7 linked regions of the Homo sapiens genome follow. The protein of the gene in region 1 purifies or fractionates together with the protein of each later gene. This does not show direct contact. Each region holds a gene or a part of one and is shown in the gene's direction. Other genes may lie near its edges.

The links.
Region 2: the proteins of SLC12A2 (region 1) and GNG12 fractionate together in Homo sapiens (co-fractionation; one large-scale study listed by BioGRID). This does not show direct contact.
Region 3: the proteins of SLC12A2 (region 1) and NOTCH3 purify together in Homo sapiens (affinity purification with mass spectrometry; one large-scale study listed by BioGRID and IntAct). This does not show direct contact.
Region 4: the proteins of SLC12A2 (region 1) and NDFIP1 purify together in Homo sapiens (affinity purification with mass spectrometry; one large-scale study listed by BioGRID and IntAct). This does not show direct contact.
Region 5: the proteins of SLC12A2 (region 1) and TMEM192 purify together in Homo sapiens (affinity purification with mass spectrometry; one large-scale study listed by BioGRID and IntAct). This does not show direct contact.
Region 6: the proteins of SLC12A2 (region 1) and NOTCH2 purify together in Homo sapiens (affinity purification with mass spectrometry; one large-scale study listed by BioGRID and IntAct). This does not show direct contact.
Region 7: the proteins of SLC12A2 (region 1) and ATP6V1A purify together in Homo sapiens (affinity purification with mass spectrometry; one large-scale study listed by BioGRID and IntAct). This does not show direct contact.

Annotation. Positions count from the first base shown.
Region 1 is NC_000005.10:128,177,011-128,181,638, forward strand, and holds part of SLC12A2 (solute carrier family 12 member 2), read left to right. Parts: intron 1-94; coding exon 95-142; intron 143-563; coding exon of another isoform or gene 564-607; exon of another isoform or gene 608-629; intron 630-1,556; coding exon 1,557-1,679; intron 1,680-3,872; coding exon 3,873-3,984; intron 3,985-4,628. UniProt on the Homo sapiens protein: Cation-chloride cotransporter which mediates the electroneutral transport of chloride, potassium and/or sodium ions across the membrane. Plays a vital role in the regulation of ionic balance and cell volume.
Region 2 is NC_000001.11:67,826,561-67,831,188, reverse strand, and holds part of GNG12 (guanine nucleotide-binding protein G(I)/G(S)/G(O) subunit gamma-12), read left to right. Parts: intron 1-4,628. UniProt on the Homo sapiens protein: Guanine nucleotide-binding proteins (G proteins) are involved as a modulator or transducer in various transmembrane signaling systems.
Region 3 is NC_000019.10:15,182,871-15,187,498, reverse strand, and holds part of NOTCH3 (neurogenic locus notch homolog protein 3 precursor), read left to right. Parts: intron 1-160; coding exon 161-394; intron 395-510; coding exon 511-621; intron 622-1,819; coding exon 1,820-2,012; intron 2,013-2,090; coding exon 2,091-2,242; intron 2,243-2,479; coding exon 2,480-2,593; intron 2,594-3,048; coding exon 3,049-3,204; intron 3,205-4,628. UniProt on the Homo sapiens protein: Functions as a receptor for membrane-bound ligands Jagged1, Jagged2 and Delta1 to regulate cell-fate determination.
Region 4 is NC_000005.10:142,132,523-142,136,420, forward strand, and holds part of NDFIP1 (NEDD4 family-interacting protein 1), read left to right. Parts: intron 1-3,207; coding exon 3,208-3,295; intron 3,296-3,898. UniProt on the Homo sapiens protein: Activates HECT domain-containing E3 ubiquitin-protein ligases, including NEDD4 and ITCH, and consequently modulates the stability of their targets. As a result, controls many cellular processes.
Region 5 is NC_000004.12:165,102,387-165,107,014, reverse strand, and holds part of TMEM192 (transmembrane protein 192), read left to right. Parts: intron 1-3,918; coding exon 3,919-4,065; intron 4,066-4,628.
Region 6 is NC_000001.11:119,915,769-119,920,114, reverse strand, and holds part of NOTCH2 (neurogenic locus notch homolog protein 2 isoform 1 preproprotein), read left to right. Parts: intron 1-501; coding exon 502-803; intron 804-1,561; coding exon 1,562-1,709; intron 1,710-2,352; coding exon 2,353-2,450; intron 2,451-3,420; coding exon 3,421-4,346. UniProt on the Homo sapiens protein: Functions as a receptor for membrane-bound ligands Jagged-1 (JAG1), Jagged-2 (JAG2) and Delta-1 (DLL1) to regulate cell-fate determination.
Region 7 is NC_000003.12:113,753,514-113,758,141, forward strand, and holds part of ATP6V1A (V-type proton ATPase catalytic subunit A), read left to right. Parts: intron 1-4,628. UniProt on the Homo sapiens protein: Catalytic subunit of the V1 complex of vacuolar(H+)-ATPase (V-ATPase), a multisubunit enzyme composed of a peripheral complex (V1) that hydrolyzes ATP and a membrane integral complex (V0) that translocates protons.

The DNA of each region.
Region 1 (4,628 bases):
TATTTTGTTTATAAATGTGCTCTGATTACATTTTTATTATTTTATTAATATAAAGGCAATTAACATATTTTTGTGTTTTTTAAACATAATCTAGTTGAGGAAGAGGATGGCAAGACTGCAACTCAACCACTGTTGAAAAAAGGCAGGCATTTTTCATCATTTTATTTTAAACCCTTTTTCATACTGTAAACTCTTTAACTCCAACCTTATTCCCTTTTTTTTAACCTTGGTTTTTATTTCCATGGTGAGGTAATGTTACAGTTCTATAAATGCAGATTAGAAAAATTATTATTAGTCTAACTAAAAAGTTAAATATTCTCAGGAAATGGAGTTATATCACAAATTCTTTTCTATTATCACAGCATTTCTGAAATATTAGACCCAGACAGCCGGTATTAATTTTTTTTAATTTAAACTGCATGGTTTAGATGATAAGTAGGGACACTGAAATAGGTTTTATTTGCAGTGTCACTTGCATTCTTTACCATCAGTTGTACCCAGCCAAGTCCTCAATTTTGATACTAATGTATTTTTCATTTCAAAAATTACAATATTTCTCACAGTCGTGCTGCGTTTGGGAGATACACAGTCATGTCAACATACATGAATTTTATGAGAAGGAGATAGAGGTGAGAGTTATGGAGCAGTGTGGTTTGGTAGCCATATTATTTCATCGTGCAAAATCATTTGTCATGTTTGCATATATCACAGCAGCATGAAAAGTGACATTCTACAGAAGTGATCAGATGTCCTCGTATGGATTTCTGCTTTTAAAATTTTGGTGTAGGAGTTTCATGATAGTCATTTGCTTGCTCACAGAATCAATGCTGTTTTTTGTTTTGTTTTAACTCCTGGGAATATAAATGGGAACTCCTTGGTGTATTGTTCTCAGACCTGCAGCAGATGGGTGCCCTTTGAAGGAGCTCCCACCATCTTTCTGTGGTTCAGAGAAAGATGTGGTTATATGGCTTTAGAATTGGGTGCCACATATTGGGGACAAAACATAGGTAAAAATGAGAAGTCTTTCCTTAGACTAAGGTTTCACTGTGATAATTGTAAGAATGTGTTAGTATGTCTTCAACTCCCATCTTTCATTTATATTGCAGATAACAACTTTGTCTTTTAAAAAGTTTTGAGCTTTAAATTATTGAGATACCAGATTACCAAAGAAATAGTTTCACAGAACAGGTATAAACTTGATTTGTCCAGTTTGACTAAAACAGCTTTTCAAAACAAAATCTAGCAGCTCACTGTAATTTTTTTTATTGTTATTTATGATTCTCTTACATTCATTCAGAATGCTTGAAAATATTAGTAAGTAGGCAGATAATTTGGATTGGTTTAGCTATTGTAAAGAGTTATTTCTCTCTAGCCATTTATAAAGTATACTTTTATTATAAACAACTGAAAGTTTATGGTAGATGCCGTATACAATTGTCTGAATTATCTGTAGTATAAACATCTGAATATACAAACATTAGGAAATGATAGGAATTCAGCAAAAGGGACTTTAATATTTACTTTGCTTACATTTTATATTTTGCTTAATCCTTTAGAATCCAAAGGCCCTATTGTGCCTTTAAATGTAGCTGACCAAAAGCTTCTTGAAGCTAGTACACAGTTTCAGAAAAAACAAGGAAAGAATACTATTGATGTCTGGTGGCTTTTTGATGATGGAGGTAAGGTTGTTAATTTTTTTAAAATGATTTTAAATTTACTGACATTGTGAGAATAGTAAGAAATGACATGCACTCTTTACCTGTGGACCCCATTCAAATTTTGCCAGCATTCCCAAAAGCAAAAGGATTAATTTCAGAATCAGGCACAGCCTTTAGTTGTCTGGTCTCTTCAGTATCCCTAATGCGGAGGTTGTTCAGTAGTATTTCCTTGAGCTTCATGACCTTAACTTTTTTTTAATATGAACCATTTTGTTGACTGTAACCCAATTTGAAGTGCTAGTTAATGTTTTATTATAATTAGTTTTAGGTTATCTACCTTTGGCAGAAATATCACAGAAGTGATGCTGTGCTCTTCTGTCTACATCTCATCAGGTGGCACAGGATGTTGATTTGTACCTTCACTGGTGAAATTAACCATTGAGTAATATATGATTTTCACCACATGTATTCACTGAAAAGTTACCCCACCCCCTTTTATAATTACAGGTATTGGGGATGGCACAGAGGGATTACTCTGAGACTATGTAAATACACTATTCTTGCAGCCTTCACCACTATCTTTAGGATCCATTGATGTTTCTGCCTGAATGTATTGTTATTGTTGTGGTTGCCAAATGATGATTCTCCTATTCCATCATTTCTTCCTCATTTATTAGTTGGCATTTTATTGTAAGGAAGAGCTCTTTATTTCTGTCAGTGTGGACTCATTGATTCCTATTTTATTGATATTCAGTGGGATATGTATTAGACTGTTCTTGTGTTGCTTTGAAGGAATACCTGAGACTGGGTAGTTTCTAAAGAAAAGAGGTTTAATCTGCTGATGATTCTGCAGACCACACAAGCATGGTCCTGACATCACTCAGCTTCTAGAGAAGCCTCAGGGAGCTTTTACTTATGGCAGAAGGCAAAGCAGGAACAGGCACATCACATGATGAAAGCAAGAGTGAGAGAGTCATAGAGAGGAGACAGAGATGCCACACACTTTTAAATCACCCGGTCTCATGAGAACTATCACAAAGACAAGCACCAAACCTTGAGGGACTGACCCCCATGATCCAAACACCTCCCACTAAGCTCCACCTCCAGCACTGGGGATTAATTACAGTTCACCGTGAGATTTGGGTAGGGGCTGATATCCGAACTATTCCAGGATATAATTTGTTACTTTCATTTGTTTTGATGTTCCAATTGTCCTATATTTCGCCAGCAGAATCCTCCTTAGGCTCATTTGTTTCCATTTATCATGTCCCAATCGTTCCTTTTTTTTTTTTTTTTTTTTTTTTTTTTTTTTTTTTTTTGCGACTGAGTCTTTTTCTGCCACCCAGGCTGGAGTACAGTGGCGCAATCTCGGCCCACTGAAAGCTCCGCCTCCCGGGTTCACACCATTCTCCTGCCTCAGCCTCCCGAGTAGCTGGGACTACAGGCACCTGCCACCATGCCCAGCTAATTTTTTAGTATTTTTAGTAGAGATGGGGTTTCATCGTGTTAGCCAGGATGGTCTCGATCTCCTGACCTCGTGATCCACCCACCTCGGCCTCCCAAAGTGCTGGGATTACAGGTGTGAGCCACCACGCCCAGCCCATTCTTTTGGGTTATTTTCTAATACAAGAAGATGTTCCAGGCTCAGTTTTATTGTTTTGCACTTTCCCTTCACAGCCACGAAAGTAACCCTTTCCAAGGAATGCTGGTTCCTTTTACTGAATCATAGTGTTTAGAAACAAAGATCAGGGCATTGGATATGCTTGTGTCTACTGGAGTGTCACTGCTCCCAGGCCTTCTCCATGGACAGAGCCAGGAACTCCTTGTGTGTGTGTCTGTGGAGATATAAATGGAGATCAAAAAGCAATTTCAGTCCAGCTTCTCCCTTTTCATATTTCTAATTTCAGTGTTAAACATGGCTCCTGCTAAGGTCAATAATTATACTTATTTTCTCAATCCTGTTGTATGTGACTGATCTCGACCTTACCAGGCCACTATCCCATTTGGCTACCTTCCTTGAATGGGATCAGACTCCGTTAGGAGTCCCTTGTTTCTCAGGTCTGCTAATGGCTTTTTGACTGAATTATCAAGGAAGGACAGAAAGATTTTTGTTTCATATGGAGTTGTAGTAAACATGTTTTTCGAGACTAAATTGATGTTCCTGATTAAGAAATTTGCATTTAGTAAATGATTTATTACATTTTTATAATTCAGGTTTGACCTTATTGATACCTTACCTTCTGACGACCAAGAAAAAATGGAAAGACTGTAAGATCAGAGTATTCATTGGTGGAAAGATAAACAGAATAGACCATGACCGGAGAGCGTAAGTTTATTTCACATTGAAGGGCATGAATCTATTAGCACTTCATTGCTACAGTATAAATTTGATAGGATAAAAATTAGACAATCCAGAAAATGTCTATTATCTTGCTTTGTTCTTTACTGAAGTTAAAAATTTTAAATATAACCTTGTTCTCTTTAGTCTTCATGTTTAACTAGTAAATACTTAATTTTACTTAGATATAATTTTTTTTAACATACTAGCATTTTAGAAGGTCCTTCTTAAATACTTGTAACATTAAAGTGTTAAGCAACTTCTTTCTTTTAATCAGGGAGAAAATGCACAAACGTTACATATTTATATATGAGATAAATTTTGTTGTAGACTTCTAGACAACAAAATGCAGGATGCCATTGTCATCCATCCAATTCTTTCCATCTATACTGTCACGATTCTAGTTCTTGTTTCAGTATTTCTCTCCTGCTCTCTAAGTACTCTTGTTTTGTCTTTGACCTGTAACATGTATATTGTACAGAGTACATAATATGCATAATCTTCAACCTAATTAATATGTATATTGTACACATTATGGGTCAAAGGTAAGACATGGGTACTCAGAAGCATTGAAACCCAGTTTTATTTTTCAGAAAGCAGAGTTTTGACCATATGATTCCTCTACCCAAAAT
Region 2 (4,628 bases), on another chromosome or scaffold:
TTATGTCAGCTTAAGCTTAACCTAGGAAGGCAAGTTGTGAAAGCAAGTAAATTTTTCTGAGCCCTAACTTGGAAGAGAAGCTTGTTTAACAGTGATTTGGGGTGTTGGCTTTGGAGTCAGACAGACTTAGATGAAAATATTAGCTATTTAACCTTTTTCAGTCTGATTTATAAGATGGGGATAATAATGGTCTCTATCTGTAGGGCTTTACAGAAAGTATATGAAAACTTTGTCTTTGGAAAACACTTAAACTGGACTTAACACGCAGTACATGGTCAAAATTATTAGATATTTATCTAGCTTGTTCAAGCAGCAGGCTACTGGATAAATTGCAGGGTGGCAGCTTGAACCTTCCGGAAATGCTAGATAGAGCAATTTCAAATTCTACAGAAAGTAACTGGTGTGTGTGTGTTTGTGTGTGTGTATGTGTGATGTTTCTACCACAGCAATATGAATAATTATGATTAAAGGATTAATAGTTTTAATATGCTTTTAGTGCTAAAGTTACAGTTGCATAGTAATTTTGACAGTCAGAAACATTGCATTATCCTTTACATTTAAAGAGAATTTATATTTCAAATAGTTGTGTTTATTAGCCCTAGGTAAGAAATTAAGCCAGGAACAGAAGTATTCATCTTTAACCAAGTGTAATTCTTAATCAAAGTATGAAAACATGTGACCCAAGGGTATCCGGTTATTTACTTTTGCATGTGCTGATGTCCAAGGCCAACAGATAAGCCATAAGAAGTGTTAGGCTGATTGTGAGTCGTTGTTTTATTTGTAAACTTTCATGAGATTGGGTGTTCAGTTAATTCAGGAAATCTACTCATCACATTGTTGACTCATTTCCTAAAATCTAAAAAATTTTTTAAATGCCTTCATCTTGCCAGGCGCTGTGGCTCACACCTATAATCCCAGCACTTTGGGAGGCCAAGGTGGGCGGATCACCTGAGGTCGGGAGTTCAAGACCAGCCTGACCCACATGGAGAAACCCCATCTCTACTAAAAATACAAAATAAACCAGGCGTGATGGCGCATGCCTGAAGTCCCAGCTACTCGGGATGCTGAGGCAGGAGAATCACTTGAACCCAGGAGGCGGAGGTTGCGGTGAATCGAGATCGTGCCATTGCACTCCAGCCTGGGCAACAAGAGCAAAAACTCTGTCTCAAAAAAAAAAAAAAAAAAAGCCTCCATCTTTAAAACAAACCCTTTAAAGCTTCTTGTTTTTGTCCTAATGCACGTCAGGTGCACAGAATTGGGCTGAACCAGGATCTTAGCTCATGCCACAGATGATTTCTCATTTTACTAATTGCTCCACTGGGACACAGAGATGTGGTTTATAATAATTTTAAATAACTATAAAGGGTACAGTGTGATTATTAATTGTTTCTTGCCTATGACATTATGCTCTGAAACAACTGAAGCATTTGATTGAGTAAATTATTGATTCGTTTCACTCCTAGAACATAACATAATGATTTCTGGCTCATACTTCTAGGTGAGTAGACTGTGAGCAAGTTACTTAATCTATGCTTCAATAAGTGTTGTGAGGAATAAATGAGCTAATCTATGTATATAGCATTTGGAATAGTGCCTGGTGCATAGTCCACATTCAATAAATGTTAACATTAAATTATTGAAATTTTCTCTAAATGTTGTATAATGAGCATGCATTATTTTTGTAACAGGAAAACAGCTATACAAAATTTTAATATTTCCCCCAAATCTAAAAAAAGCTCAGTAATTTAAATAGTCCTGCCAAATAGTACTTAAAAAGTAAGAGAATTAGACAATCATCATTTTGTCTTTTAAATGTGAAATGGTTTGCAATATTAATTTGTTAAACAAGTTAATTCTTCCAAATCTCAATTCCATTTTCTTTTTTATTAGAGACTTTAAAAAATCAGTAATACATGAAGTCTGTTACAGTTTAAAATGGGGAAAAGCAGTATGCACAGTTACATTGTGTTATTACAATTACAGCTAGCTTAAAAATTATTTTTAAACCATAAGAAAAGCCTAGAAGAAAATACAGACAAATTGGTGATGGGATTATGGTGCTCTCCCACCCCCAACCTGCTTTTCCCCTATTTTCCACAATGCGCCTATATATATACTAAAATATAATTCATTTGTGTAATAGTTACTAAACAAATCTGGTTTATTAACTACAAATACTAAAAAAAATTTGCGTAATAGTTACTAAAAAACAAATCTGGCTTGTTAACTACAAATAGCAGGATTTTATTGTTGTTTTGGAAAAAGCACCAACTTTATGGCAGTTGAATGTCCTTCGGTTAAATGTCAAAACCTTTGCAGTGAGAATTGTTTAGCGGTAAAAGAGAAGGCCTTTCAGAAGCTTGTAGTTTGATCTTCATGAAGAATATTTGAAAAGTCTACCAGTGGGTTTTTAGGATCTGCATATAGACCTAGTCCACCAACCTTGACTTTATGGAAGTTGTGACTTCCCAGATCCAGGCCTGCCTTGATGAGCTGCGTTTTTACAGCACCTTCAGTATATCAGACACCTGGAAGACAGTAATGAGGCAGATATTGGTGCACTTAGTTTAACAGGAAGGTTGGATAGATAAAAACTAATTACAGCACAATTGTATATATTATATATCCTGAGCCCTTTCTAAACTCTTCCCGTATACAGTCTTGCTCAGTTGTCACAACAGCCCAGAGGAGGAAGCTGAGGTTCCTTAAAGGTCTGAACCTTGCTCAAGTTGCAAGGACAGAATTTGACCCAGAAGCATCTTAACTCCACATCTCATGCCCTCTGCACGGAGATGGAGGTGCATCCAGCCAGAGGTGAGAGTGAAGTGGGCTTTATGGAGTCAGTTTTGCTTAAAAACTATAAAACTAATCAAGAGAAACATGAGGAGGAGACTCCTTTTAGGTGACCTTCCTGAGGAGAATCATCAGTGCCTCTCCATCAGGCTTGCCACTCTTTAGCCATAGCAGTTAACACTTCCAAATGGCTGCTGAGACCCAGCAGGCCTGAAGCGCACACAAAGGCCCAGTCCTTGGTGACCCTGTGAAGCCTACCTCTTTCATCCCTGGACTTCCAAAGGGGGTCTGGATAGTACAGATGAAGGAACTGACTCGCTAAATCCTGTTCTAGAACCAGCACATACCCACAGATCCTGACCTCCCCACTTTCCTCCCTTAGGAATGACAGGAGAGTAGTTAACAGGTAGCATGGATCCAGGGCAGATGGTGGAGGTGACTTGACTTAAGATAACTTGTAGCTAGATTATTCCATTTATTGGAGAGTCTCTCTTGAAAATCATATCTGATGTCACTTAAGTGTTTGGTTTATCATGTTAGTCTTTATTGGGTGTCGTAAAAGTGCTCAGTTGTGAAGTGTCTGGTTACCATCCTGTGACAAGGAGGGTTTTTGTCTTCTTTTAATGGGTCTGCATTTCAGAGAATTACTGTATAATAAAAACTGGAGTGTTGGCTGGGTGCAGTCGCTCACGCCTGTAATCCCAGCACTTTGGGAGGCCGAGGCGGGTGGATCACAAGGTCAGGAGAGCGAGACCATCCTGGCTAACATGATGAAACCCCGTCTCTACTAAAAATACAAAAAATTAGCCGGGCGTGGTGGCGGTCGCCTGTAGTCCCAGCTACTTGGAAGGCTGAGGCAGGAAAATGGCGTGAACCTGGGAGGCAGAGCTTGCAGTGAGCCGAGATCGTGCCACTGTACTCAAGCCTGGGCAACAGAGCAAGATGCCATCTTAAAAAAATAAAAAAAAAAACTGGAGTGTTGGAGACTGTTAAGAATTAATACTTTCAGTTCTGCCAGAGGGTTAGTATCTAGAAGTTCTAAGAGATTGGTTGCTAAAATCTTCTGTAATTTTCAGTTTCATTGATTGTATAATAAGTGGGTGACTTTGGGCCCAGAGAGTCAGAAGGCTTTGTATTCTGTATGCTTTCTGACACAGTAGGCCACCACTCCCCTTGCAGGCAAGGTCATGTAATTGACATAGGATCCCCTTTAGTTGACCGAAGAGAGAAGTATAAGCTCTGGTTGAACTTGAGTTTGCGTGATCACACATGCTCACTGGAGTGAAGTCTGAATCAGTTGCCATCTCTGCACTTGCATTGTGTGTAGAGAATTGTCTTGATTCAGAATGGCTTTGTGCAAACTCACATGAGCCCATTGGAGGCAGAATCTTAACTTCATTGATGTGAAATAATCAGGCTTTTATTTAGCTTCAGATGGCACTAGCCAAGACGTCCTTGACCACTGGACACTAAACCCTTAACTCCCCACTGGGACCCTTTGACTCAGACCCCAAGCTTGCAGTTACCTCAAATTTTGTGTTGTTTTGGGGGGATAAATTATTGCAGAGGAAAAACATAAGGTTTTTTCTCAAATGAAGACTCAAACTGAAATCCATTAAATCCCAACATGAGCTAAATCTAAGGGTGGAAAGAGGAATCAAAATCTAAAAGCCTCTTGGACTTTATTGAGGCTTATTGAAGACCTTATTGAGATAACATCATCATACCAAGTTTAACCAGAATCTCAGGCAAATTAGAAAGGTGTAACCTTTAGACTAGGTGCCTGAGCTGTGCCTAGACTAATGAAATCTTCTGAATTATTAGACCATGGCCTG
Region 3 (4,628 bases), on another chromosome or scaffold:
GAAGTAAGTGGGGGGTGGGGGGTGGGGCCTGTATTGAGCTCGCCTCCTGACAGCTTGATGGGCAGGGCCTCAGATAGAGCTGAACCAGGATTGGTCCGAGGCCTCACTTGTGGGCAGGCCCCTGGCAAGTGGGCGGAGCCTGACCCTCTTGGCCCCACAGGCTTTGAGGGCACGCTGTGTGATCGCAACGTGGACGACTGCTCCCCTGACCCATGCCACCATGGTCGCTGCGTGGATGGCATCGCCAGCTTCTCATGTGCCTGTGCTCCTGGCTACACGGGCACACGCTGCGAGAGCCAGGTGGACGAATGCCGCAGCCAGCCCTGCCGCCATGGCGGCAAATGCCTAGACCTGGTGGACAAGTACCTCTGCCGCTGCCCTTCTGGGACCACAGGTGGGACCGGGGGCTGGGGCAGAAACAGCACACCTGGAGGGGCACAGAGGGTTTGGGAATGGTGCATCTAGTGGGGCACAGTGGTGGCCACTCCATGCCATGTTCCTGGCCCCTAGGTGTGAACTGCGAAGTGAACATTGACGACTGTGCCAGCAACCCCTGCACCTTTGGAGTCTGCCGTGATGGCATCAACCGCTACGACTGTGTCTGCCAACCTGGCTTCACAGGTGGGCAAGTGGCTGCCATGAGAGGGGGTCCTTAGATCGAGGGTGAAGTCACTCGTCTCTGTGGGCCTGTTTTGCCCGTATCTTTGCAGACTCTTGTCCAACGAGGTTGTCCGTGCTTTGCCCTGAGTCTGTGCTGTCTCATTGGCATAAGGTTGTTTCGAGATTATTCTGCAGGCTGGGCGCGGTGGCTCACGCCTGTAATCCCAGCGCTCTGGGAGGCCAAGGCAAGTGGATCACTTGAGGTCAGGAGTTCGAGACCAGCGTGGCCAACGTTGCGAAGCCCCATCTCTACTAAAAATACAAAAATTAGTCGGGTGTGGTGGTGGGCGCCTGTAGTCCTAGCTACTCGGGAGGCTGAGGCAGGAGAATTGCTTGACCTCAGGAGGCGGAGGCGGCAGTGAGCCAAGATTGTGCCACTGTACTCCAGTCTGGGCGACAGAGTGAGACTTCATTTCAAACACACACACACACACACACACACACACACACACACACACATACAAAAACAAACAAAAAGATTATTCTGGAACATAGATGAAAGTGTCCAAACTCAGTGACTAGGTTATTTCTGAATGGGTCTAAACTAATCCTTAGTGGAAATGAATGTGACTTTGCTAGGTGTGTTGGCTCATGTCTGTAATCCCCCAGCACTTTGGGAGGCTGAGACATGAGGATCACTTGAGCCCAGGAGTTCGAGACTAGCCTGGGCAACATAATGAAACCCTGTCTCTACAAAAAATAAACACACTCCCAAAGCCAGATTAGTCAATACGTAGATAAACACGCACACACATGCACACACAATTAGCCAGACGTGGTGGTGCGCAACTGTAGTCCCAGCCACTCGGGAGGCTGAGGTGGGAGAATCGCTTGAGCCCAGGAAGTGGAGGCTGTGGTGAGCTATGATCATGCCACTGCAGTCCAGCCCGGGCGACAGAGTGAGACCCCATCTCAAAAAATAAGAAGAAGAAGAAAAGAAAAAGAAAGGGACTTCATGGAAGTTTGGGGACCAGAATGATCTGGGGCAAGTCAGCTCTTGGTTGAGGAGGCGGGTGTCCTAATCTGCACAAGAGCTGATGCGTTATGAAAAAGAGGTCATTGCTCGGGGGTGTGGGTGTGCTAAGTGGGGTCACGTCGTCCCTCCCTGGTTGTCCCTGCTGACTTTGTTCTGAGATGAGATTGCTTGTGTACTCCCCAGGGCCCCTTTGTAACGTGGAGATCAATGAGTGTGCTTCCAGCCCATGCGGCGAGGGAGGTTCCTGTGTGGATGGGGAAAATGGCTTCCGCTGCCTCTGCCCGCCTGGCTCCTTGCCCCCACTCTGCCTCCCCCCGAGCCATCCCTGTGCCCATGAGCCCTGCAGTCACGGCATCTGCTATGATGCACCTGGCGGGTGAGGGCCCTTCTCAGCCTCAGACACTGCCCCCTCTCCCTGGCCCACCTCCCTGGCCTGACTACCTTCCCCTGCCAGGTTCCGCTGTGTGTGTGAGCCTGGCTGGAGTGGCCCCCGCTGCAGCCAGAGCCTGGCCCGAGACGCCTGTGAGTCCCAGCCGTGCAGGGCCGGTGGGACATGCAGCAGCGATGGAATGGGTTTCCACTGCACCTGCCCGCCTGGTGTCCAGGGTGTGTACCTCACCTTCCCTCTGCAGCCCCACCAACACCATGGGCCTTCTCATCTCTCTTCTCCTCTACTCTCTCCTCCCGCTATGTTAGCTTCTTTTTTGCTTTCAATCATTTCCCTCCAGGAGCTTGGGAGGTGGGTATCAAGGTGGGGACCCTGGGGTTGGGGGAGGTGGGGGGAGATGGGATCAGGGAGTCCCTCAAGGCTATCTCTGCTTCCCTCTCTTCCACCCCCAACAGGACGTCAGTGTGAACTCCTCTCCCCCTGCACCCCGAACCCCTGTGAGCATGGGGGCCGCTGCGAGTCTGCCCCTGGCCAGCTGCCTGTCTGCTCCTGCCCCCAGGGCTGGCAAGGTATGCCACCTGCTTCTCTTCCCTCCTCCTCTCCATCTCCTCTGCCCCCTACCCTATCAGGGATGATGCTGGGGATCCAGAGAGGGACCCATCCCCAGCCCTGCCTTTGAGAGGGGCTTCCTTCTTGGAAGGACAGAGCTGGACACTGATATGCAGCCTGTGTGGGTCAGCCCTTGGAAGAGGAAGAGTTATGGGGCTAGAGATGCTGGGACTTAGGGCGGGGTTTAGGGTACAGCTTCCTGGAGGAGCAGACCTCATAGTAGGTATTTGCCACCTACTGAGACAGGGAGACGGCCATTCTGAAACTGCATATGCAAAATGCCCAGACACGAATGACAGCACGGCTTATTTTGCCTTCACCCATCTCGGCCTGCAGGTTCTTCCTGAGCCCCAGGTCCCTGAGACCCTGCTCTGTACCCTGTAACCCTAGGTGTAACCTTGCTCCCTACCCCCAGGCCCACGATGCCAGCAGGATGTGGACGAGTGTGCTGGCCCCGCACCCTGTGGCCCTCATGGTATCTGCACCAACCTGGCAGGGAGTTTCAGCTGCACCTGCCATGGAGGGTACACTGGCCCTTCCTGCGATCAGGACATCAATGACTGTGACCCCAGTGAGTGCAGGGGAGCTCTTGGGGGTGCTGCTCTGGGGAACACAGTCATTAAGCTTGAACTGTGTGCCTGGCACTGTGCTGTCATTTCATCTTCACAGTTATCTTACTTTTCCCGTTTTATTTATATGGAAACTGAGGCCCGAGGAGGTTGAGTGACTTCTTGTGCAAGCCCATGGAACGAGTTAGGGAATGAGCTGGGCTTAGAACCTTGGAGTCTGTGTGCTGCCTCTTTTTTTTTTTTTTTTTTTTTTTTTTTTGAGACAGAGTCTTAGCTCTGTCGCTGGAGTGCAGTGTTGCAATCATCGCTCACTGCAACCTCTGCCTTCTGGGCTCAAGCACCTCAGCCTCCCCAGTGGCTGCGACTATAGGCGCACACCACAGCGCCCAGCTAATATTTTGTGTTTTTTGTAGAGACGGAGTTTCGCCATGTTGCCCACGGTGGTCTCCAATTCCTGGGCTCAAGCAATCTACCTGTCTCCACCTCCCAAAGTGCTGGGATTACAGGCGTGAGCAACCACACCCGACCTAAGTGCACTGTCTTTGAGAGCAATCGAGTTAATATCATGTGCAAAGTATGAGATAAAAGGCCCCCCAGAGGCCGGGCGAGGTGGCTCACACCTGTAATCTCAGCACTTTGGGAGGCCAAGGTGGGCGGATCACCTGAGGTCAGGAGTTTGAGACCAGCCTGGCCAACATGGAGAAACCCCATCTCTACTAAAAATACAAAATTAGCAGGGCATGGTGGCGCATGCCTGTAATCCCAGCTACTTGGGAGGCTGAGGCAGGAGAATCACTTGAACCTTGGAGGTGGAGATTACGGTGAGCTGAGATTGTGTCATTGTACTGCAGCCTGGGCAACAAGGCATAACTCCGTCTCAAAAACGAACAAACAAACAAACAAACAAACAAAAAGGGGTGCTGCCAAACAGATAAATAACACAAGCCACATATGCAATTTTAAATTTTCTAGTAGCCACATTAAAAAATAAACAGAAATGGGAGATATTAAATTTAATATTTTATATTTATTTATTTATTATGTATTCAGAGTGAGGCTCTGTCGCCCAGGCTGGAGTGCAGTGGTGCGATCTTGGCTCAGTGCAGTCTCGAACTCCTGGGCTGAGGCATTCCTCCTGTCTTAACCTCCTGAGTAGCTAGGATTACAGGCACTCACTACATGCCTAGCTAATATTTTTATTTTAATTCTGTAGAGATGGGGTCTCACTGCGTTGTCTAGGCTGGTCTCAAACTCCTGGCCTCAAGCCATCCTCCTGCCTTGGACTCTCAGACTGCTGCCACTGTGCCTGACCAAATTTAATATATTTAAATTTAATTTATTGAATGTATATAATCGGCTGGGCGCAGTGGCTCACACCGGTAATCCCAGCACTTTGGGAGGCTGAGGCAGGTGGATCACCTGAGGT
Region 4 (3,898 bases), about 14 Mb from region 1:
AATTACTAGTCAGACCTGCTCATTTTTCCTTCATCTCTCCTATTACCACTACTTTTTCAAGTCTCCTGGGATGGCTGAAGTATCTTGAAGCAGAAGCACACTAATGTTTCCTTGATTCTGCACACTTAATATTTTGCTGTTGGGTGGATAGCTGCTAGGGAGGTCTAGGAAGAGAATAAATATATGCAAATTTGTAGAATTAAACTCATAAGAGGGATCTTCACATTGATTTAGATGAACTCCGTTCTTCCAGCAGTCCAGATCATGTCATTTGTGGGGACATAGTGAGTTCAGATTCCATCTAGCCTGATGTTGATTCATGGAGGTGGAGATTGGGATGCCATATAAACCAGTGGAGATTATTGGGCACTCTTGGTTCTTGATGTCAGATATGTGAGTGCTGCATTTGTCATTTTGTAAATATTCATCCAGATTGAGGCTGATGAAGGTAGGGCATTGTGGGAGAATGGAAGCAGGATAAGTCCCCAGAAATGCGGGGACCATCAGGCCTCTAGGCTCTATTCTAGCAAGTAACTGGAGTGAGTGATGAGCAAGTACAGAAGCCTAGTCTGGGCAGTGTGATGGCATAGGCCCAGATGTTCCCCTCTTGGCTTTAAGATAGTAGACAGTTTGCAGACCACACCTACTGTGAGGAGCGAAGCTCCTAAAATCATTGCTTGGTAGAAATAGTTTATGAGCCCAATCTAGGATGATCCTAAATGGCGATGATGTGCATTCAGTTCTTACAGGTACCAGGGAGAAACTAAAAACCCTAGTGTCTAAGGGCAAGACCATCATAATGTAACTGCCGTATATTGGAAGCAAACCACATGCTTGGTACTGTGCTTGATGCTTTTATATATTTTGTATATTGTTTCCAATCTTCATAGTAACCTTGAAAGGTAGAGATTATATTATCTCCATTTTACAGATGTGAAAATTTAGGTCCAGAGAGAAAAAGTAATTTTCCCAAAGTCATATGACTGATAAGTAGCAGAAGTGAAAGTCAAACCCAGATATTCTAGAATCCAAAGTCCTTGTTTGTTTCACTGTACTCTGCAGATCTGTTGCAATATATGGTAAATAGATCAGTATGGAAATTAGCTCTGATTAATCACATAACTCTTCAGAATACTTTCATTTGATACAAGTACATATTTAGGAACTTCTTAAAGGGCTCTAGTATTCAGCAGACATGTATAAAGCACTTTTTAAATATAAGATGCAGTATATTTTACAGTGGATAGGTAAAAAGCTTTGTATAAGGCAGTGTTCCTCATTGTTATTCAAAAGCCTAAAATCCAACTAGGGTAAAGGGCCCACAAATACTGATAACTAAGACACATAAGAGCAGTGGGCATCAAGAACTGAAACTTTTTACTGGGTGATCATAGGGGAAAATGAGATTTGATGTGGGCCCGGAGTTTTGATGGGTAAGAACATTCCAGAGGGAAAAAGGCACAGAAAGCAGGTGTGAATTCAGCCAGGTGAAGGCAGTTCTGTGGATGTAGTAATTGGCTTTGTATGAGCAAGAGTTTGTGAAGGGAGATAGAAAGTCCTGACTACAACTGTTGTTTATAGAATCTTTGGAATGTTAGATGGGCGTATTTAAACTTCATATGTAGCTTTTAGAGAATCCTTCAGAGTTTTTGAGCAGGGGTATGAGAGGACTTGTGTGGTGTTTTGGAAACATTAACTTGGCAGCAATTTCTAGGATGCATCATGGTAGAAGAGATACCAAGAGGACAGGAAGAACAGTTAGAAGGTGTTCGTAATATTATTAGATGTTACTTCCATATATTTTTTGGAGTATATCTTTGAATAGTTATGCAAAAAACAATTAGCTTTTAATTTTGGCAAAACCTTATTCTGCTGATACGAAGTAAGAATACTAGGTATTTAATGTTTTAAAAAATTAATTATAAAAATTCGTTTTTATAGAAATTTCAAACAATAGAGGAAGTATGTTAAGTTAGAAAAGGAAGCTGCCATTGCCACCGACTTCCCTTTCTCTAGTTCCCACTCCCCAGGGGAACCACTGTTAACAATTTGGGTCTTCCAGACCCTTTTCTGTGTACAACAAGTTTTGATATTCCCTAAAATATTTTTCATTTAAGGAGCCCTCATTGAACTGTGTACAAATCTATCACTTTTAAGTATATATTCAATTATTTTTAAATATCTCAACACACACCTATATCAGTTAAAAAGATAGCCCACATGTGTTGGTATTGTTCATGATCATGTTATTTCTAGTTTTGCAATATTACGTTATCAAGTTAGGATGGAAAAGATCTTATCTGCTGATAAGGTTAGAAGTGAGATTTAGATCTGTATACCAATACAAATACATGCTTATGGAGTTGAGCAGTGGGCAGTTCTGTGGACTATTCATGTATGATCGTACTATTCTTTTTTCCCCTATATCAGCCTCGTAAAGCACTTGAGCTGGTTGATTTTATCTTTTTTTTTTTGAGACGGAGTCTCACTCTGTTGCCCAGGCTGGAGTGCAGTGGTGGGATCTTGGCTCACTGCAAGCTCTGCCTCCCGGGTTCATGCCATTCTCCTGCCTTAGCCTCCCGAGTAGCTGGGACTACAGGTGCCCGCCACCACTCCCGGCTAATTTTTTTGTATTTTTAGTAGAGACGGGTTTCACCATGTTAGCCAGGATGGTCTCGATCTCCTGACCTCGTGATCTGCCTGCCTTGGCCTCCCAAAGTGCTGGGATTACAGGCATGAGCCACTGCACCTGGCTGATTTTATCTCTAATTACTAATATTTTAGGTCCTAAACAGGTCCTCGATTACTGATATTCTAGAATTTAAACCAAATGTGTAAGTAAATTTTGTCTTTTGTCTTTTCTTGAGGTATATTTTTTTAAAGGAAGAGTAAATAGTTCTTTGTGAACTATTCTTGAAGTGTATTGTTTTTGAAGTGTATTAAATTTTTGAAGTGTATTGTTAAAGAACTTGGGTTATAAGATGAAAATTTCATTTAGAACACTGGGGATAGAAGAAAGATTTGCTTCTTTTCTAATTATATATTAATAATGCAAAATGGAATTTTAAACACACATTGAGCCTTTAATGCTCATAATTTTGAACTGAACCAAAGCAATAACTTTTTTCCTTGCTACTCAAATTTAACCCTTCATTTTTCTTTATGTCTTCCCTTTGCCTAGAAATAATTCTTTTTCTTTTCATTTAGGATGAGGATTTTGTGGGTCGGGATGATTTTGATGATGCTGACCAGCTGAGGATAGGAAATGATGGGATTTTCATGTTAACTTTTTTCAGTAAGTATGTATGCATATCAGAACCACCCCCTACAAACTAGAGTGCTTTGGATTATGGGTGAATCTGACTGAATTAAAATAACTAGTTGAGCTAATATATTAATACATTATGTTTATTTGGTGCCTTTTACTGGAATATTCAAAGCTTAATATACCTTTGTTTTAATATCCCTTCTCTTTGCCTTCTATTTTCATGAATATCTGTGGAAAATATAATTAAAGCAGTTATGAGGATGCTGCATTTTTACATGAGCTAAGCCTCATCTTCCAGGTCTACGGGGCCCTTTTGCGTTGCTTCTACTCATACTTAATCTGTAGAATAGGAATTAAATGCCTTTGATGAATTTTGCTCTGAAAGCTTCTTTTTTCTGACAGATCAAAGTCAGCCTGATTTTCTCCCTTCATGTTACTTGCCATTTATCTTTTTGTGTGCCTCACATAGAAGTGAGCAACCATTTCCTTTATTTGTTGTATTAGAAAGATAAGAAAATGCAATGCTTTTAGAGGTGATGTTATATAAGTTGTCAAAATTCAGAGAACAGGAGGATGAGTGACTTGAATCAGATTATTTGGGGGCACTTATTTAATGTTGAAGGCATTTAT
Region 5 (4,628 bases), on another chromosome or scaffold:
AAATCCTGAGAAGTTACTTGGGGACAGATTGTAAAGCGATAGACTAAGAATTTGGACTTTGTCCTGAGGATTTGGGGATCGTATTAGGATTATCCAGAGGGACAGAACCAATAGGATATATGTATATATAAAAAGGGGGTTTATTAGGGAGAATTAGCTCACAAGATTACACAGTGAAGTCCCATGATAGGCCACCTGCAAGCTGGGGAAAGGGAAGGTGGTAGTGGCTCAGTCCAAGTTCAAAAGCCTCAAAACCAGGGAAGCCAACAGCGCAGCCTTCAGTCGGCAGCCGAAGGCCTGAGAGCCCCAGGCAAGCTGCTGGTGCAGGTTTCAGAGTCCAAAGGCCGAAGAATCTGGAGTCTGATGTCCAAAGGCAGGAATTAAGGAGGCAAGCATCTGACGCAGGAAAGAGAGAGCCAGAAAACTCAGCAAGCTGCTTATACGCCTATTCTGTGCTTTGTTCTAGCTGCATTGGCAGCTGATTGGATGGTGCTTGCCCATATTGAGGGTGGGTCTTCCTCTCCCAGTCCACTGACTCAAATGTTTGGCTCCTCACAGACGATACTTTGCCATCCATTTGACACTTAATATTGACCATCATAGGGAGCTACCCAAAGTTTTTGAGGAGAGAAACACGAATGTTTGTCTTGGAGCAGTGAAAGAGATTGCCAAGACCAGAAGACTGGAAGCTTCTAATAAAAGGCCATGAGAAATGGGAGGGCCTGGACTAAGATAGTGAGAATAGAGAGGAAATAACAGGTTTAGGAGTTAGAATGGTAATGATTTTTTCTCTTTTTATCATGCCCCAGCACTGAGTGGATAGAATGGTAATGATTATAGGGGTAGTGTCTTTGTTTGGGTTGCTATAGTAAAATACAAATAGGGTAATTTACAAATAGAAATGTATTGACCACAGTTCTAGAGGACAGGAAGTCCAAGATTAAGGCAGCCACGGATTCAGGAAGCCCAAGATCAAGGTGCCAAGAGCCCTGGGGAGGGGTTGCTCTCTGCTTCAAAGATGGCGCCTTCTTGCTGCATCCTCACGCAGTGGAAGGTGGAAGGGAGCTCATTCAAGCCTCTTTTATAAGGGCACTGATCTCATTTATGAGGGGGGGAACCCTCATGGCTTAATTACTTCCCAAAGGAAAGCAGGGAACTATTGGGGGACACCAACATTTAGACCATAGCGGGGTGCAAGTCAAAAGTAAGAGTTAATAAAAAGGCCAAGTGTGGTGGCTCACACCTGTAATCCTAGCACACTGGGAGTGCACTTGGGAGGATTGCTTGAGGCTAAGAGTTCAAGACCAACCTGGCCAACATAGCGAGACCCTGTTGATTTTTATTTTAAAATTTAAAAAATATTAAAAAGAGAAAAGAGTTAATAAAGAAATAATAGTGGCTAATACTTATTGAGTGCTCTCTGTGCGTCAGGCAGTGTCATGAGGACTTGCATGTGTAGTGACTCATTTAGTATTCCTGACAGAGCTACGAAGCAGGTGCTATTATTAGTCTCCTTTTTAGATGTGGAAACTGAGGCATGAGAGATGAAGTAACTTGCTCTCAGCTAGAAAGCGGTAAAACTTGTGCTTGAATCCAGGCAGTTTGCCCTTAGGAGCCTGACCTTAACCACAGCTCTTACTGCCTTTGGTCACAGTTGATCCCCCGTATGTCCTGATAATCTCTTCTAATTAGCCCAGGTCTTTGATGATGCCCATAATTGAATTAGAAAATACTGCAGAAACAGGTTTGGGGCACTCATTCATTCATCTAGCAAATGTTTGCTGAGTGACAACCATGAGATAGTGTTGAGTGCTGGGATTACAAAGACAAGAGGTGTAAAGGTAATGGGTCCAATGACGTCTAGTGGAGAAGAGATAAGTAAGAGACCATCACAGGATAGTTTGATAGAAGAGGCAAGCACAGAATGCTTTGAAAAACATGGAGGGTGGCACAATCCAGATTAGGGGTATCCAGAAAGGCCCTGTGGTGGGAATTGCCCCTTCTGAGCATGAAAGAATGCACAGACATTAGCTAAGGGAAGAGCAGATCTCAAGGCTCCAACATCTGCTGACTGAGAATGAGCTAGAGGCAGAGGGGTCTTGAAGAGAACAGGAGTAATCTGAATTGTACCATGAGTTATGGTAAACTAAACAGGAAGCAATCTAGGCATTGAATAAAAGACTTGGCCAGGCGCGGTGGCTCATGCCTGTAATCCCAGCACTTTGGGAGGCTGAGGCAGGCGGATCACCTGGGGTTGGGAGTTTGAGACCAGTTTGGCTAACATGGCGAAACCCCATCTCTACTAAAAATACAAAAATTAGCCGGGCATAGTGGCGCGTGCCTTTAATCCTAGCTACTCAGGAGGCTGAGACAGGAGAATCGATTGAACCCAGGGGGCAGAAGTTGCAATGAGCCGAGATTGAGCCACTGCACTCCAGCCTCGGCGACAGAGCGAGATTCCATCTCAAAAACAAACAAACAAACAAAACAACAAAAACAGTTGCAGAGCAGTGTTGAATACCTGCTACTGGAAATTGAGGAGCCCACTCCAGAGCTAGGTTACACCCTAGATTACTGTCCTTATCTTTGTAATCTTAGCAATCAACAGCCATCTCTTACATCATTTGTCCTACTACCTACTTCCAAAATAAAGAGCTCTCATTCTGTGTAGCCAAAACCTATTCATGAATCCTTCATTTCTGTCTCATTGTAGTGCAGTTAGCTGACCTAAATTTTTTGGCATTGTCTTCTATGCTTTTCATTTGCTGATTTGTTATGTGCTTCCCATGAACCATATTCTTTTTTTCTTTTTTTTAACATGTGATGAGAACACTTAAGATCTACACTCTTAGCAAATTAAAAGTATATACAATGCAGTATATATCCATATTTTTGAGACGAAGTCTCTCTGTCGCCCAGGCTGGAGTGCAGTGGCGCAATCTCGGCTCACTGCAACCTCCACCTCCTGGGTCCAAGTGATTCTCCTGCCTCAGCCTCCCGAGTAGCTGGAATTGCAGCTTGCGGCCAAGAGTTCAAGACTAGCCTGGGGCCGGGCACTGTGGCTAATGCCTGTAATCCCACCACTTTGGGAGGCCGAGGTGGGTAGATCACCTGAGGTCAGGAGTTTGAGACCAGCATGGCCAACACAGTGAAACCCTCCCTCTACTGAAAATACAAAAATTAGCTGGATGTGTGCCGGGCACGGTGGCTCATGCCTGTAATCCCAGCACTTTGGGAGGCCGAGGCAGGCGGATCACCTGAGGTCAGGAGTTCGCGACCAGCCTGACCAACATAGAGAAACCCCATCTCTACTAAAAATTAAAAATAAAAAATTAGCCGGGTGTGGTGGTGCATGCCTGTAATCCCAGCTACCCCAGGAGGCTGAGGCAGGAGAATTGCTGGAACCCGGGAGGTGGAGGTTTCGGCGAGCCAAGGTTGTGCCAGTGCACTCCAGCCTGGGCAACAAGAGTGAAACTCTATCTCAAAAAAAAAAAAAAAAAAAATTAGCTGGGTGTGGTGGTGCACACCTGTAGTCCCAGCTACTCAGGAGGCTGAGGCAGGAGAATTGCTCGAACCTGGGAGGCAGAGGTTGCAGTGAGCCAAGATTGCGCCGCTGCACTCCAGCCTGGGCAACAGAGCGAGACTGTCTCAAAAACAAAAAACAAAACACAAACAAACAAGACCAGCCTGGGCAACATAGTGAGACCGTGTTGCTACAGTTTTTAAAAAATTAATTAATTTTTTAATTAATTAAATTAAATTAATAATTAATTTTTAAAAAATTGGATTCAGGTAGGCAATGTGTTCTCTTGCCTTTAATTTGTATGTGGTTAAAAAGCTCTGTAGTTTAGTAGATTTGTCTTAGAAACATAATCTAGAAAGTGGTGATTATAGGTTGCTTGTTTTTCTGCACCCCAGGGTTCCTTGGATATCACCCAGAGTATTGAAGACGACCCACTTCTGGATGCCCAGCTTCTCCCACACCACTCATTACAAGCTCACTTTAGACCCCGATTCCATCCTCTTCCTACAGTCATCATAGTGAATCTTCTGTGGTTTATTCATGTAAGTTGGCTGCAAGAAGGGGACCTATCCAGAGGTGATGTTTGTAAAAATTATATAAGTGTTTCAGAGGGCAGTTGTGCTGTATCTATCAACATTTAAAATGTAGGGCACATGTTCTTAGGACATCCTGAGTGCTGTGTCATGGGCAAAAAAAAAAAAAAAAAAGTACGTACACTTTTACTTATATCTTCAAATAATTCATTGTGGATATATTTGCACACATGTAAAGATATTGTTGATAATAGCCATGTTGTCTGTCATATCAAGAGACTACAAACTACCTGGCTACTTGGCATCCAGAAGACACTGTGTGTCCCATTCATATAAGGAAATGCTATGCAACTGTTAAGAATGGGGTGGATAGGTATACAGTATATTAACATAGAATAGCCTTCATGATTACATTGTCGAGTGAAAAAAAATCAAGTTTTCAACCTTGTGTACAGAATGTTCCTATCTGCAGTTTTTAAAAGGGAGTTGAGAGGGCTGTTGTGGACCTGTTTTCCTGTATATAATAGAATATTTCTAGAAGCATTCACAGACCTAGTTGCCTCTGAAATGAG
Region 6 (4,346 bases), on another chromosome or scaffold:
TAAATCAGCTCGAGGAAATGAATGCTTAAGGAATGTAGCCACAAAGAAATTATCAGCTCAGAAAGGGAAGGATTTCACATTGCTTCATGTACAGTGTGTTGAGACTAAACAGGCTGATAAAATGGGTTAGATTGTAGTGGGATAGAAAAATAATATCCCAAAGCAGAGGATAGTTAGTATCTTATGCATGTATTAATTGTTCTATTAATATTAGATATTTTTAAATGTCCAATTAAAATAACAGCACTTAAACTTGAACAGAAAAACGTGTTTAGAGAAGAGCCCCCAGCTTAAAAAGACTTGTACTTTCCCATTATTCTTTACAGAAATGATACTATCAGAGGAAAAGGTGGCAAATGTGAAACTAATAACCAGTTACTACAAGAAGTACAGGGAATTCTTTGCCCCTAAGAATAACTTTAGTCAAATAGAGCTGTTTCAACCATAGGGTTAACTACCTTCTCCTTCTTGAGTACTTTATGGAATTTTCCATTCCTACAGATGGCTGCACCCCATTGATGTTGGCTTCTCTCCGAGGAGGCAGCTCAGATTTGAGTGATGAAGATGAAGATGCAGAGGACTCTTCTGCTAACATCATCACAGACTTGGTCTACCAGGGTGCCAGCCTCCAGGCCCAGACAGACCGGACTGGTGAGATGGCCCTGCACCTTGCAGCCCGCTACTCACGGGCTGATGCTGCCAAGCGTCTCCTGGATGCAGGTGCAGATGCCAATGCCCAGGACAACATGGGCCGCTGTCCACTCCATGCTGCAGTGGCAGCTGATGCCCAAGGTGTCTTCCAGGTAAAGAACATGAGAAGAGTCACTTGAATAATAATTCCTATGGCTCTATAATGTTTTATCGTTTTTAAAGAATTAATATCTCATTGAATTTATTCAATCATTTGAGAGATTAGGGCAGGTATTAGAGTCATGCTTGGTAGATGGGAAAGTGGGAAAAGGGAGGCAGGCAAATTGACCTAGCTATATATAGGAAGATAGTGATAGAGCCAACTGCAGACAACACCAGTCTTTCTGATTATTAGTGATAATTTGTTGTGCCAAGATGCCTCCCAAATGCGTAGATTAGATGAGAGTGATAGCTGGTCCGGAGCCTTTGACTAGTATCCGCTACTTCTTATGGATTGGCCTGACTGTATGGGCTTCTAGCTGCTCATTGGCAGTTTTCTTGACCTGAGTTCATATTATATTCCCTGATGCCTGTTTATCCTTATGAGGAAATTGGAAGCATTCTGAATCACCTTAGGCTGTATCCTGACTGAAGTTGTGATATTTCCCCACATCCCTCTTCTTTCCTGAGAAAGTAGAAGGCTCATCACTTTACATCAGCCATTATTTATTGAGCATGTATTTATTTATTCATGCAACAAATATTTATTGATTGATCATGATAGAATCTTGGGCACAAAGATAACAAGACTTTCCCTCTCCTCCAGGAATCTACACTGTAGCCTCAGCTCTGATGCCCTTGTTTCTTCACTGAGTTTCATTATTTTCCTTCATCCAGGTGACTCTCTTTTCTGTACTTTCTCCTCTTCTAGATTCTGATTCGCAACCGAGTAACTGATCTAGATGCCAGGATGAATGATGGTACTACACCCCTGATCCTGGCTGCCCGCCTGGCTGTGGAGGGAATGGTGGCAGAACTGATCAACTGCCAAGCGGATGTGAATGCAGTGGATGACCATGGTAGGGATGAAAGGCAGGGATTTGGATTCTTACCTGCAAAGCATGCCTCTGACGAGGGGAATAGAGTTACGTGACCCTTAGAGAACTGCCTGAGATCCAAATACGTGAGAGATTCACTCATTCTTTCATTCATGCATTTATTTAACATGCTGAGCTCAGAGATCCAAGCCAGTAGGAGATCCCTAATTAAAATGAGGGATTTTTAATGAGGGTTCTTGGACCTCAGAGCAGATACATGAAAGGTGTTCCCATGTAGTTTCCTAGGCATAACACTTGATTTGAGGATTTATGAGAGCTGACTTCTCTAGGAGAGTTGTAGAATATTCTCAATATAAATTCTGACATGTAATATATAGGTTTTTATCTTCAGTATGTAACAGGGTAGATTCTGCCATGTAGGGGACATGAATGCCTCATACAAGTGATCCTTTCACCTAGAGGTCTTCTGCAGGCTAGGCAGCCTGTACTGAAGTATTTCTAGAACAGAGGAAAAAGAAGAGATTACTTTGGTTTTTCCTATAGACCCCTACAGAGAACTGCTTCCTGCTGATCTCTGGGGAGTTTAAGATTTCATTGTGCAAGTCATAGTGTCTTATACTAAGAGTAGGATATGTCTGTTTATAAAAATGTTTCTCCCCTGCAGGAAAATCTGCTCTTCACTGGGCAGCTGCTGTCAATAATGTGGAGGCAACTCTTTTGTTGTTGAAAAATGGGGCCAACCGAGACATGCAGGACAACAAGGTACAGTTTGTGGGCTCTGAGCTTGAGGAGGCTCATAGCAGTGCCTCAGTTATAAGCCCATTCCCGTTTCTCCTTACAGCTTCTCTTGTTATATGTATAGACAAAGATGGAAGCAGTTTGGGCAGACACTGGGTTTCGAGAGCTTGATGAGGATATTGGGCTTGTCCAGGCATGTGTCAGGATGGAGTTCTCTGCCCTCTCAGTACTCAGCTTGCAGTAGGCTGGCTATAGATAGCTTGGTGTAACTCTTTCTCTTCCCTGACATTTCCTTTTCTCCAGTTGTCTCTTCTGTTCATAATCACTTCTTTTTCTCGTTTTCTTTCTTTTTTCCCTCCGGCTGCTTTTTTTTCTGTCCTTGGATACCCTGATGTTTTCCTGTTTGATTTTTCTCCATCTGAGTTTTTTGTCCTGCTTCCTTCTCTCATTCATCTTCTCTCAGTTTTCTTTGTTTTCCTTATCTTAGTCCTTTCTTGCACATGTTTTGTCTCTTCTTTCACTGTTTCCCTTACTTTTCCCAGTTCTGTGCATGCCTTAGTTTTTTCTCTTCCTACCTTTCTTATTTCTAACTCCTTTTCCTATTATTTCTTATTTCTAACTCCTATTCCTACCTTTCTTATTTCTAACTCCTTTTCCTTAACCTTATTTTGATAAGCTCAGTACTCTTTTAAGTGAGTCTCTGGCTCAGGGGCATGCTTTATTTTATGAATTCCCAACTAAAGAGATGTTCCCCCTAAGGGGCAAAATTGTTTTTTTGAGGAGAGGTGAAATAATCTTACTTTTTTTATGTGTAAATCACAGATACACATTCAGTACATTGGTAGAGGCACAGCCTATCTGTGGTGTTAATATTTCATCGGGGAGATAATTAGGAAAACATGTCTAAGGGGGTGATAATAAAAAAGATTGAGAAAAACTGCTATATTCTCAAGAGTGTTATTAACATGTGTTCTGTGATGGGCCTTTTCTGTAGGAAGAGACACCTCTGTTTCTTGCTGCCCGGGAGGGGAGCTATGAAGCAGCCAAGATCCTGTTAGACCATTTTGCCAATCGAGACATCACAGACCATATGGATCGTCTTCCCCGGGATGTGGCTCGGGATCGCATGCACCATGACATTGTGCGCCTTCTGGATGAATACAATGTGACCCCAAGCCCTCCAGGCACCGTGTTGACTTCTGCTCTCTCACCTGTCATCTGTGGGCCCAACAGATCTTTCCTCAGCCTGAAGCACACCCCAATGGGCAAGAAGTCTAGACGGCCCAGTGCCAAGAGTACCATGCCTACTAGCCTCCCTAACCTTGCCAAGGAGGCAAAGGATGCCAAGGGTAGTAGGAGGAAGAAGTCTCTGAGTGAGAAGGTCCAACTGTCTGAGAGTTCAGTAACTTTATCCCCTGTTGATTCCCTAGAATCTCCTCACACGTATGTTTCCGACACCACATCCTCTCCAATGATTACATCCCCTGGGATCTTACAGGCCTCACCCAACCCTATGTTGGCCACTGCCGCCCCTCCTGCCCCAGTCCATGCCCAGCATGCACTATCTTTTTCTAACCTTCATGAAATGCAGCCTTTGGCACATGGGGCCAGCACTGTGCTTCCCTCAGTGAGCCAGTTGCTATCCCACCACCACATTGTGTCTCCAGGCAGTGGCAGTGCTGGAAGCTTGAGTAGGCTCCATCCAGTCCCAGTCCCAGCAGATTGGATGAACCGCATGGAGGTGAATGAGACCCAGTACAATGAGATGTTTGGTATGGTCCTGGCTCCAGCTGAGGGCACCCATCCTGGCATAGCTCCCCAGAGCAGGCCACCTGAAGGGAAGCACATAACCACCCCTCGGGAGCCCTTGCCCCCCATTGTGACTTTCCAGCTCATCCCTAAAGGCAGTATTGCCCAACC
Region 7 (4,628 bases), on another chromosome or scaffold:
GTTAGTAGTGGCAAAAAACGTGGAAACAAAGGGAATGCCTGTTAATAGGGGTATTGTTATGTAAATTATGGCCGAGGCATTTTATGGAATGTTGTGAAGTGATTAAATGGTAGGAGTTAAATCTACTGGTGATTAGAAAGGATTTCCAAGTACATTCTGAAAGGATTTCTATCATGTGTCTTTTTTTTTTTTTTTTTCCTGAGACAGGATCTTGCTCTGTTACCCAGATTGGAGTGTACTGGTGCTGTCTTGGCTCACTGCAACTTCCTCCTCTTAGGTTTAAGCTATCCTCCCGCCTCAGCCTCCAGAGTAGCTGGGGCTACAGGTGTGCACCACCACACCTGGCTAATTTTTTGTATATTTGGTAGAGACGGGGTTTCACCTTATTGCCCAGGCCATCATGTATCTTAAGAAAAAAAAATACAAAGTACAGAGAAACATTTGTAATGATAACTCATTTTTTATAAAACCAGTTGAAAAACACCATGAGTTTTGTATATTTTTACCTGGTTGTCACCGTTGGAAAGAGGAAATAAGCAGAAAAGGAAAGAGACAGAATATCCATAGTAACATATTTATATAAAACTACATGTTTGTACATGTCTGTGTATATGATGGATTATGGGAAACAATGGGCACTAAGATGATTTACTTTCTTCCTTACACTTTACATTATATGTTTTTATTTTTACAGTGGACATGAAGTGTTTCTGTAATTAGGAAAAACAGGCTGGGCATGGTGGCTCACGCCTGTAATCCCAGCACTTTGGGAGGCTGAGGCAGGTAGATCGCTTGAGCCCGGTGTTGGAGACCATCCTGGGCAACATGGCAAGACCCCCCTCTACCAGTAAAAACTAAAAATTAAAAAAATTATTTGGGCACGATGGCATGCACCTGTAGTCCCAGCTACTCAAGAGGCTGAGGTGGGAGGATCACTTGATCCCGGGGCATTCAAGGTTTCAGTGAACTGCGAATGTGCCACTGCACTCCAGCCTGGGCGTCAGAGCGACACCCTGTCTCAAAAGTAAGAAAAAAAAAAAGAAAAGAAAAATGTACCAAAAAATGATAGGGACTACTAGATAGGATTACAAATTTGGCATGTTATTTTTGGTATGGATAGTCAGTGCTATCGACACGCTTTCTGCCTTAGAGTGTAGAGCACATTGCACAAGTGTGGGATCTGTCACCTGACTTAATCATATGACAGAATCATAAGAAAAGTCCCTATTTGGGTTTTGGCATATAAACTGGATTACAAGATTAACTTGCCTTAAGAAAACTTTAAACAAGAACTTCTTTAAAGAAGCAAAATAAAAAGTACTTATAATTGTTTAATACTTGATTTCTGTCCTTTTAAAAGTATCTCCGTAGAATACATCATTCAAAGCCTAGACAGAAAATAGCAGATGCTTTAGAGTTGGATTTGTTGCATACTTAAAGTAGCTGTATTTTTTTCTCACATTGGTATTACTTCCCCTTTTCATTACCAGTTTTATTAATTGCATATATGTGCTTTAATGTAAGCTGTCCAAAGTTTTTTTTACAAGAGTTGGGATATATGTAAATAAAAATAATTTTAGAGTAGTATTAATATAACAAAGAGATGAAGGAAACCAGACTGTGTGAGTCAAATCCTGGCTCTGCTTCCTAGTGGTGTGACTTTGGAGGAGTTACTTGTGTCTTTTTGCATTGCATTTTTCTCAACTTTAAAATAAGGATAATAAGAGTATTTAACTTCATTGGATGTTGTGAATAATAGAAGCGATTGGAATAATAACTAGCACATAAGGACCGTATATATATTTGCCAGCTGGGTGCAGTGGCTCACACCTGTAATCCCAGCACTTTGGGAGGCCGATGCAGGCGGATTGCTTGAGCCCAGGAATTGAAGGGCAACATGGCAAAACCATGTCTGTACAAAAAAAAAAAAAAAAAAAATTAGCCAGGCGTGGTGGCACACACATCTAGTTCCCGCTATTCGGGAGGCTGAGGTGGGAGGATTGCTTGAGCCTGGGAGGCAGAGGTTGCAGTGAGCTGAGATCGTGCCACTGCAGACCCTGGGTGACAGAGCCAGACCCTGTCTCAGAAAAATATATATGTAATAATAATATGTGCTATTATTTGCTCAGTCAATTAGGTGCAATATATAATAGTTTTACTTGGCTCAGTTGTTTTAACATTCATTTACTCATCCAACAATATTTTTAATTCAGTTGAATGGGTAATACATGTACAAATATGGTAAAATTTATATATTCATACAAGTGTGTTTTCTCTCCCCTCATCCTTATTCTTTTCTTCCCCCATATATTTATCCACAAATGGTAGCACCTCTTCGTATTATTCTGGACCTTACATTTTTCGCTTGAGTATTACGTTGGAGATCTTTTCACATTGATACAGTTAAAACTGCCTCATTCTTTTTAATGATAGTTTAGTATTCAATTGTATTAATATACCCTCATCATCATATGTAACATTTATTGAGAGCTTACTCCTGATCCAAATGCTTTCTTAATACTTTAGTTTTATTAACTCATGGAAGCCTCATAACAACCTATGAGATAGGCACTATTTTTCTATATTTAACAAATGAGGAAAACTAGGCACGGGATGATTAAATGTCCAACAGTCACACAGTTTATAAGTGGTAGGGCTCAGGATTAGAGCCCAGGGAGTCACTTTCCAGAGATTGCTGCCATAATACCGCTAAACATGTAGCCTGTCATAGTATTACAAGGTATTTAACCAGCCTCCATATTAATGGACATTCCAATCTTTTGCTTAAGAAACAGTGCTATAGTTAATATTTTGTTAATAGAACATTTTGTACATCTACAATAAATTCCTAGAAATGGACTAGCCATGTCAAAGGTAAGTACAATTTGAATTTTGGTGGGCACTGCCAAATTGCTCTCCAATTTAGGGATGTTCAGAAGTTCACCTTTGTCCTTAGTAATTTGCCAAAATCTGCCATTTAGCTTGGGTCTTTGGAAGGTGTGCTTTTAACATTTCTAGCATCCCTGAATTGTGTGTGATCTACCATCATGTAATAGCTTAAGTTACTATCATATGGAATTAATGTAACAATGTCAGTATGAGAGGTGTGACCTTTGGACTTACTACTTTCAAATAACAGTAAGTATTTTAGATATAACTTGAAATACTCCTTAATGTGATTTATACATTGAAATTCTATCAATCGAAGTTTGAATAGATATTGTTGAAAAAGTAAAATGCTGTAATTGTTAATAATTGTGAAGTTGCTGATTTTATGTACCAAAGCAATTATGTAAGAGTGTTCAAATAGTTAAATAGTGAATCAGATTGCATTTGAACATTAAGAGTGTGGTAGCTAGCTAAATAGAGGAATAGCTGGGTCCTTTCTTGTGAAAAGTGAGTTTTTGATAATCCGTGAGTCCTAGTCGTAGGTAATGCAAAATGAGGTAGCGAGGAGCTTTATTTAGATGAGTTATAAAATCCACAAATTATTTTGAATATAACACACTTGGTTTCAGTGCCCAATATTTCACTTGTTCAAGAAAGGAAAAAGTATCTCTATGAATCTAAGAAGCAGATTGACTGACACCAAACTCTTCAATGTGATCCAAAATAGACACTTAAAATACAGAATCTTCTCAGGTCCCAACGTAGTATACCTGCAGTGCCTGAATATGGCCCTGTAGTACCTGCTTATTGTACAGTGGGGCGTGTGTGTGTGTTTTAAATATCACCTCATTCTCCCTAAGGTACTCTACTGGGTATAGGGACAGCTTGGAAAGTAGCTGTAAATAGAGATAAACAGGCTGTCAGAAACAGTTATTTATTGTGAGCTAATTCTACCTCAGAGTAGTATAAAGCAACAGAAAATAACTTTCCCTATACCTCCACCCTCCAAATGAGCCATTGAGCCATATCAACTTTGATGTCCAAATTATTAGAGCTTAATCTGAGTCTTGGACAACAAACCCTTCTATGCCTCATGGCACGAAAGTGTGTTCAAGATGGAGTTAATATTTTCCTAAATTCTCATTCAACATATTGTAAGCTGATATGCCATTAGCCCCATTCTGAAAATATAGATGAATAAAGTACTTAAGAGGCATATCTGACTTCTACACTCCTGAGCTATTAAGTGACTGTGGAAATTCCCAGAATTAGTTAAACTTGGCAGGACCAGAGAGTGCCCACACAGCCTTATCCAGAGCCACATATATTTATTCTAAATAGACAGACAAAAAACTGGTTTGGCTAAGTTTTCATCTGTTGCCCCTATGCTGTTTCTAGGGTTAAAATTCTCTTAACAAATTTGCATAGGTCAAATAGTCCTTTAGAAATACTATATTAGTTGGCTGGGCCTGGTGGCTCACGCCTGTAATCCCAGCACTTTGGGAGGCCAAGGTGGGTGGATCACGAGGTCAAGAGATTGAGACCATCCTGGCCAACATGGTGAAACCCCATCTCTACTGAAAATACAAAAATTAGCTGGGCGTGGTGGTGTGCACCTGTAGTCCCAGCTACTCAGGAGGCTGAGGGAGGAGAATCACTTGAACCTAGGAGGCAGAGGTTGCAGTGAGCTGAGATCACACCCACTGCACTCCAGCCTGGCGATAGAGTGAGACTCTGTC